Regions from separate parts of the Homo sapiens genome. Here region 1 is linked to region 2. Evidence: fine-mapped expression QTL. A gene starts in region 2. The other region holds a variant in brackets. All regions are shown on one strand. Distances are from middle to middle. Region 1 overlaps AKT2 (AKT serine/threonine kinase 2). Region 2 holds the start of AKT2 (AKT serine/threonine kinase 2).

Region 1 (2,895 bases), 52 kb after region 2:
TGGGATGCCAGCAATGGGAGAAGCATGGCATAGCTAAGGACCGGCAGCAGCCAGGGAGATGGTGGTGAGAAGAGAGGGCATGGGGCTGGAGTGCAAGGGTCTGGGGGCCACTGGGAGGGGTGGGGACTGCTTGCATGGCGGGAGCCAGCCATGGAAGGGTTTCATACAGAGAGGGACAGGGTTAAAGCAGGCCTTTAGAAAGCCCCCCTGGCTGCCCGTGGAGAATGGATGGGAGGGTGCGAGAGGCAGGCCAGGACAGGGCTCTGGGCTGGACTCTGGCATGGTGGTGTGTGGGGCAGAGAGAAGGTGGGAGGCTCAGAAGGCCCTGCCAGCTGTGGGGCGCATGGGCAAGGGCACAGGAAACTCCCAGAGGAGGCCGCCCGGGGCTCAGGTTTGGGGAGTGGGTCCGTGGCTGAGGGCCTCCATTGCGGAGGGATGGGCCTTTCCTGTCCTGTCCTGTGGGCAGCCCCCGCCAGCTGGGGCCGTTTCCCCAGGGAGTCTGGGCAGGTGTCCCAGGCCCTCTCCTGACTGGTCCTCCCCATCCACCTCTGCCGCCCACAGATGACAGCCTGGGCTTACTGGAGCTGGACCAGCGGACCCACTTCCCCCAGTTCTCCTACTCGGCCAGCATCCGCGAGTGAGCAGTCTGCCCACGCAGAGGACGCACGCTCGCTGCCATCACCGCTGGGTGGTTTTTTCCCCCTAACTTTTTACTTAGCCTTTTTGGTTTGTGTCCCCACCCCCACCTCCTCACCCCCTTTCCAGTTCTTCTTCAGGCCCCTCCCAGACGCACCCCAGCGGCCCCTGCAGCCCCTGCCTCCAGCCTCCAGCCTCACCTTTGTGCCCAGACTCGCATTTGGAAGACTCCACCTCCCGCCCAGGCCTGGGCTGTTGGGCGGTTGGAGATTCAGGTTTTAATCCACACAAGCCCCAGTGAGGGGTGAAGCATGGCGCCTGGGGCCTGCCTGAGTTTCTGGCCTGGGTGTCGTGCTGGTGTCTGCCTCCGCGCTGCTGCATCTGGACGAAGGCTGCCTTCTGGTGGGACGCGACACCCGGCAGACAGTGGTGCTGCCTTCCAGGCCCCGTGGCCTAGGCTCGGAGTGGCCAGGCACGGGGCGGTCCAATCCCCCACCCGCTGTCCCCCTATGGGGGCAGAAAAGCAATAATGTCCAGGGGCAGGCAGGGGCCCTTGGGAGCTGCAGGGCTGGGGGTTAGGGCTGCTCCCTGGTGAATGGAGTCAGATCCTAGGATCTGTACCATGGGGAACCAGGAGTGGCCGGGCTGGGTGCCGCCTCCTGGTCCGGCCTCCTCCCCACCAAACTGTCCTCACCCTATGGATGAGGCAGGAGGAACATTTGGGGCCAAACCTGCCTGCCTCCCAGCCCCGTGCCTTACTAGGGCTTCCTTCCAGCTGGCCTTACCTCCCGCTGGACCCTGGGCCTGGCCTGGCCCCACTGGGGGCTATGGGCTGGGCTCACCCTCTCCTCTGCGGGGGTGGAGGGCCACCAGCCTTGGCTGTTACAATCTTACACCGGACAGTATTGGGCCCCATGGACTTGGTCAGGGAGGGGTGGGGGTGGGCATCTCTGGTACCTATTGGGGTGGGGGGCCTCTGAAAAGGGAGGCTCCTAGGCCCCCCTCACCCCTCCCTCTCCCCAGGGCC[C/T]CACGTTCTGCAGCCTTAAGGTTGAACATGAGTGCACGTCCATGTCAGTGCTGTGGGACTCCTGTGCGTGCCTCGGACTGCGTGTGTCGGCGGGACGCAGGCACACGTGGGTGTGTGTGCATGTGTGTTTGTGTGAGGGCAGCGTGTCCTCCAGTGTGCATGGTGTGTGGGCTTGGGCCCCATCCCTGGCCCGAGCATTTCATCCTGTGGGGGAGGGGTGCTGACCTAGTGGGAGGAGCCCCACTGTGATCCATGAGCTGCCCTGCCCACGCCTCCCCTCCCTGTAGCAACACCTCTGGGTGTTTGGAGTTTAGCTTTTGTGGGTTTGCTCTCCCTATCCCATCTCCTGTACTACACAGTTCATGGCAGGGTGGGGAGGGGTGGGGTTGGTTCGGGTGGGTGAGGGTCTTTTTCCTCTGTGTGCGATGTTGTTATCTGACAGTTCTCCGTCCCTACTGGCCTTTCTCCTCGTCTTCATATTTGTACGGTACAAGCAATAAAGACACTCATTTCAGACCAGGGCCCAGCCTGCACTCACGCCAGCCCAACCACTCTGGGCTTTGCCTTGGTGATGGAGTCAGACCCCTGGGCCCCAGCTCCTCCTGTACTAGCCGTTCCCTTCAGCAAGGAGGGCACTGAGCTCAGGGTGAGGGCAGCTGGGGTGTGTGCAGGAGCTCAGGCTGGAGAGGGTGGGTGGAGCTGGTGCTGTGGGGCTGAGGGGTATGGGAAGGCTCCCCGCATGTGGGGGTGGGGTGGACAGAGACCACTCCAGGCCCTCAGTGCTGCTTAGGCTAAGAGAGGTGGGGTGGAGGGACAGGGCTGGAAGATCTGGGTAGCCCAGAATGAGGAGGGTGCCTGTGCTGTCACTGAATGAGAGGGAGTGGTTCATTCCACCCGGCTGCCGAGCCTCAGAGGGGGGCATTCCTATCCTGCCCCACCTCCCTGTTTATGCTGCCACCTGGAAGCCTTGAGGCCCCCAAATTCCAGTACAGACCCAGTGGTGTGTTCATGGTGGCGTGGTTGCTGTCACCTGGGAGCTCCTGAGCGTTTGGTTAGAACCCTGTTCAGCTTGGGGTCAGCCCTCCCCTAGTCACTGCCCTTTAGCCTGGATGTGTCTGGGCCCCTGCACTTCCCGTGCTTGAGTCACGTGGCTGCATGGCCGGGCGCTGGCCGGATGGAACACCTCCCCCAGCAAGGGACCAGGGACCAGAGCCCTGGCCTGCCCTGCTGAG
Region 2 (2,895 bases):
ACACCGACTGATGGGGAAGACCGGGAATTAGGAATACCAAGCAGCAAGTTCCAAGCTAGAAACCAAATAAGAAAGGGCTAGTTCCAGCATTAGGTTTACGTCTCAGAAAACGAAAGCCGAACCCTCAGCAGGATTTGCCTGAAACACTCTCACAGACTGAGGTGGACCCAGGATTCAACTCTCAGTCAGGCATTTTTCTCACTTACCAATGCATACAATTGCCAAGTTATATGGCATACTGGAACCCAAATTCAGGAGGCAGCACAATCCCCTATGAGAGAGGAGGGGCTGGGAGCCAGATGTCTCACAGCTGTCCAGTATACTAGCTAATATACGGATTAGGATCTGTGCAAAGCTCTTTTCTTGCAGGGTCATTTTTTTTCTTTTTTCTTTCTTTTCTTTTTTTTTTTTTTTTTTGAGACGGAGACTTGCACTGTCGCCCGGGCCGGAGTGCAATGGCATGATCTCGGCTCACTGAAACCTCTGCCTCCCGGGTTCACGCGATTCTCCTGCCTCAAGCCTCCCAAGTAGTTGGGATTACAGGCACACACCGACATGCCCGGCTTTTTTTTTTTTTTTTGTATTTTGAGTAGAGACGGGGTTTCACTATGTTGGCCAGGCTGTCTCGAACTCCTGACCTCATGATCCGTCTGCCTTGGCCTCCCCAAGTGCTAGGATTACAGGAGTGAGCCACCGCGCCCGGCCGCAGGGTGATTTTAAGGCCTTTATGGGCCCAAGTTGCATTATAAAATGTTATATCCCAGATTCACTGGAATATGTACGATGAGAGCAGGTGGCATTAATATCTTGCAGTAATGAACTAATTGGTAAAAACCGTTTTGTTTACATTAAAATGGTTCAAAAGCCAGCGACACAGCGATGATTGTTTCCATTTAGCAGATGTGGATACTGAGGCACAGAAAACGGTCAAGCCTTCTGCCCACAGTCACCAGAAAGGAGGAAATTCAAGTCTGGGGTTGTGTGGCTTCAGAGCCTGAGCTCAACCATGACGAGCACACTGAAAAGGAAACCCCTCCTAACTAACTCCCGCTCCGGGGTCCTTTAAGAGCGTCAGAACCCAGAACTGAGTAAAACAAGATCAAAGCGTATGTAAATACGGACTAGGGGCTGCCGGGAAATAATCACTACGGCTAGGCCCTAGGGAAAGCAGACGTCGGAGTCCTAGTGCGCCTGCGTAGCCCCATCTCGCCTTTCCGCCCCACGGCCTAGCGAGGCCCATCTCTAACCCACACAGGCCCAAAGTTGTCTAATGTGCGCAGGCGCCCTGCTGTGAGCCCGCCTCCTTCTCTGCCCTGCTCTTGCGCTCTCGCTCTCTCAGAGTTCGTCTCTGGCTCTTTGTACGTCACTTCCTGTTTGTGGCGCGAGAGGGCGGTATTTCCGTCCAGAGGGTGGGAGGGGGCGGTAAGCGGGGGCTGGGGGGAGGGGGCGGGGGGGGCCGCGCCGTGCTAGCCGTTGGGCCTGCCTCGGAGGAGGCGTCGCCGCCGCCGCTGCCGCTGCCGGCGCCGTTGCCGCTGCCGGGAAACACAAGGAAAGGGAACCAGCGCAGCGTGGCGATGGGCGGGGGTAGAGCCCCGCCGGAGAGGCTGGGCGGCTGCCGGTGACAGGTGAGTGCGCCAGCGCGTGTCCCCGAACGCCCCCCCCACGATGGTCGCGTCCGGGCCCCCCGCGGTGCCGCGATGGGCTGTACCACCCGTGCCCGGCGGGGGGACCGCGGCCCTCGAGCCCCTCCTTCAGGAGCTGAGTGGGGGTGGCCGAGCGGGGGCGGTGGGACCAGCCTCGGGGGGCCGGGGCGGTGGCGGCGGGCCATACCACTGAGGCGGTGGGGGGAGCGCTGCAAGTTTGCGGGACGGGGAGCGCAGGCCGCAGCGTGCGCGGGCCGGGGGCTGGACCTTTCGGGCGCGGCGGGCAGATCGAGCCTGGCGTGCGCGGGCTAAGCTATCGAGGGGGCGCGCCGCATCAAGTGTAGAGGGCTGTACCTTTTTGGCGCTGTGGAAGCCGTTGCTGTGCTGTATTTACAGGGGTGGGGGCTTCTGGGGAGGATGCTTCCCCAACTGTGGCTGGGTTATATCACCACGGCGTTGGGGGAGCCCTGCTTAGAACGTAGGGGAACCCAAATCAGAGGACTGTGATGTTTGTGATCTTTAAGGGACTGGGACGGGGCGGGACAGGCCCTAGTGGGTTTTAGGGGCGTATTTTGGGAGGACTGTGATGCCGATTGGTGAGGAGGGGTTTCTGTTTCCTGTATTTGACGTGTGTGGCGTTGGGGGTTTACACTGATCTCAGCCTTTATTGAACTTCTTAACGACTCTGGAGGGAACGTCATGGTTACTGGGGTGCTTTGGACCATGGAGGTGCTGCTCTGGATTCCATTACCCTCTCAGATTATTTACCAGGCAGTAACAGTTCTTTCCTTCCATAGGGGAGGGAGGAAAGCTGTGTTAGAAGTCACTGAAGTTGTCTGAGCCTTAACATTCTGAAGAGGAAGAGGGATTGGGCTTGGATTTGAGGAGCCGTGCCCCTGCACCCGCTTGTTAAAACTTGGGAGGAAGGAGTGTTTGGGGGAACACCTCTTCCCCCCAGGGAAGCTCTCTGGGGGCATCTTGATCTTGGGATTGTGAGGACCTCTTCCTCTCATTTGGAGACCTCTTGGGGCTCAGCAAGACGCCTGGGCTGGAGTAACTAGAGCCTCCAATGGGCTGCTTTTCAACTTCATCCACTCCTACCTTCCCAGAGAAGCAGCAGGAGTTCACTCGTGGGCTGAACTTGGTTGGCAGTGGATGTGAAGGGTCCAGGAACCAACGCAGACCACTACATGCTCCTCTGTCGCTGGCCACGAAGCTGTTTGTGTCTCCCAGTTACCAGCTCGGTCACACA

Evidence for each region. PIP is the estimated chance that this variant, and not a neighbour inherited with it, causes the effect.
Region 1: its variant is the best candidate, but not a certain one, in a credible set for the expression of AKT2 in whole blood (INTERVAL, PIP 0.86).

Annotation. Positions count from the first base shown.
Region 1 is chr19:40,231,618-40,234,512 of GRCh38, reverse strand. It overlaps AKT2 (AKT serine/threonine kinase 2), which reads left to right. Exons shown (of 14, transcript NM_001626.6): 14 at 562-2,895. The coding sequence ends at 641. Among named protein-coding and RNA genes, the nearest start is that of CCNP, 6.4 kb to the right of the region's middle. The variant C/T (reference allele first, on the strand shown) is at 1,664.
Region 2 is chr19:40,283,911-40,286,805 of GRCh38, reverse strand. AKT2 (AKT serine/threonine kinase 2) reads left to right here and starts at 1,461. Exons shown (of 14, transcript NM_001626.6): 1 at 1,461-1,625. RefSeq lists enhancers at 309-1,140, 2,297-2,436 and a silencer at 1,427-1,926.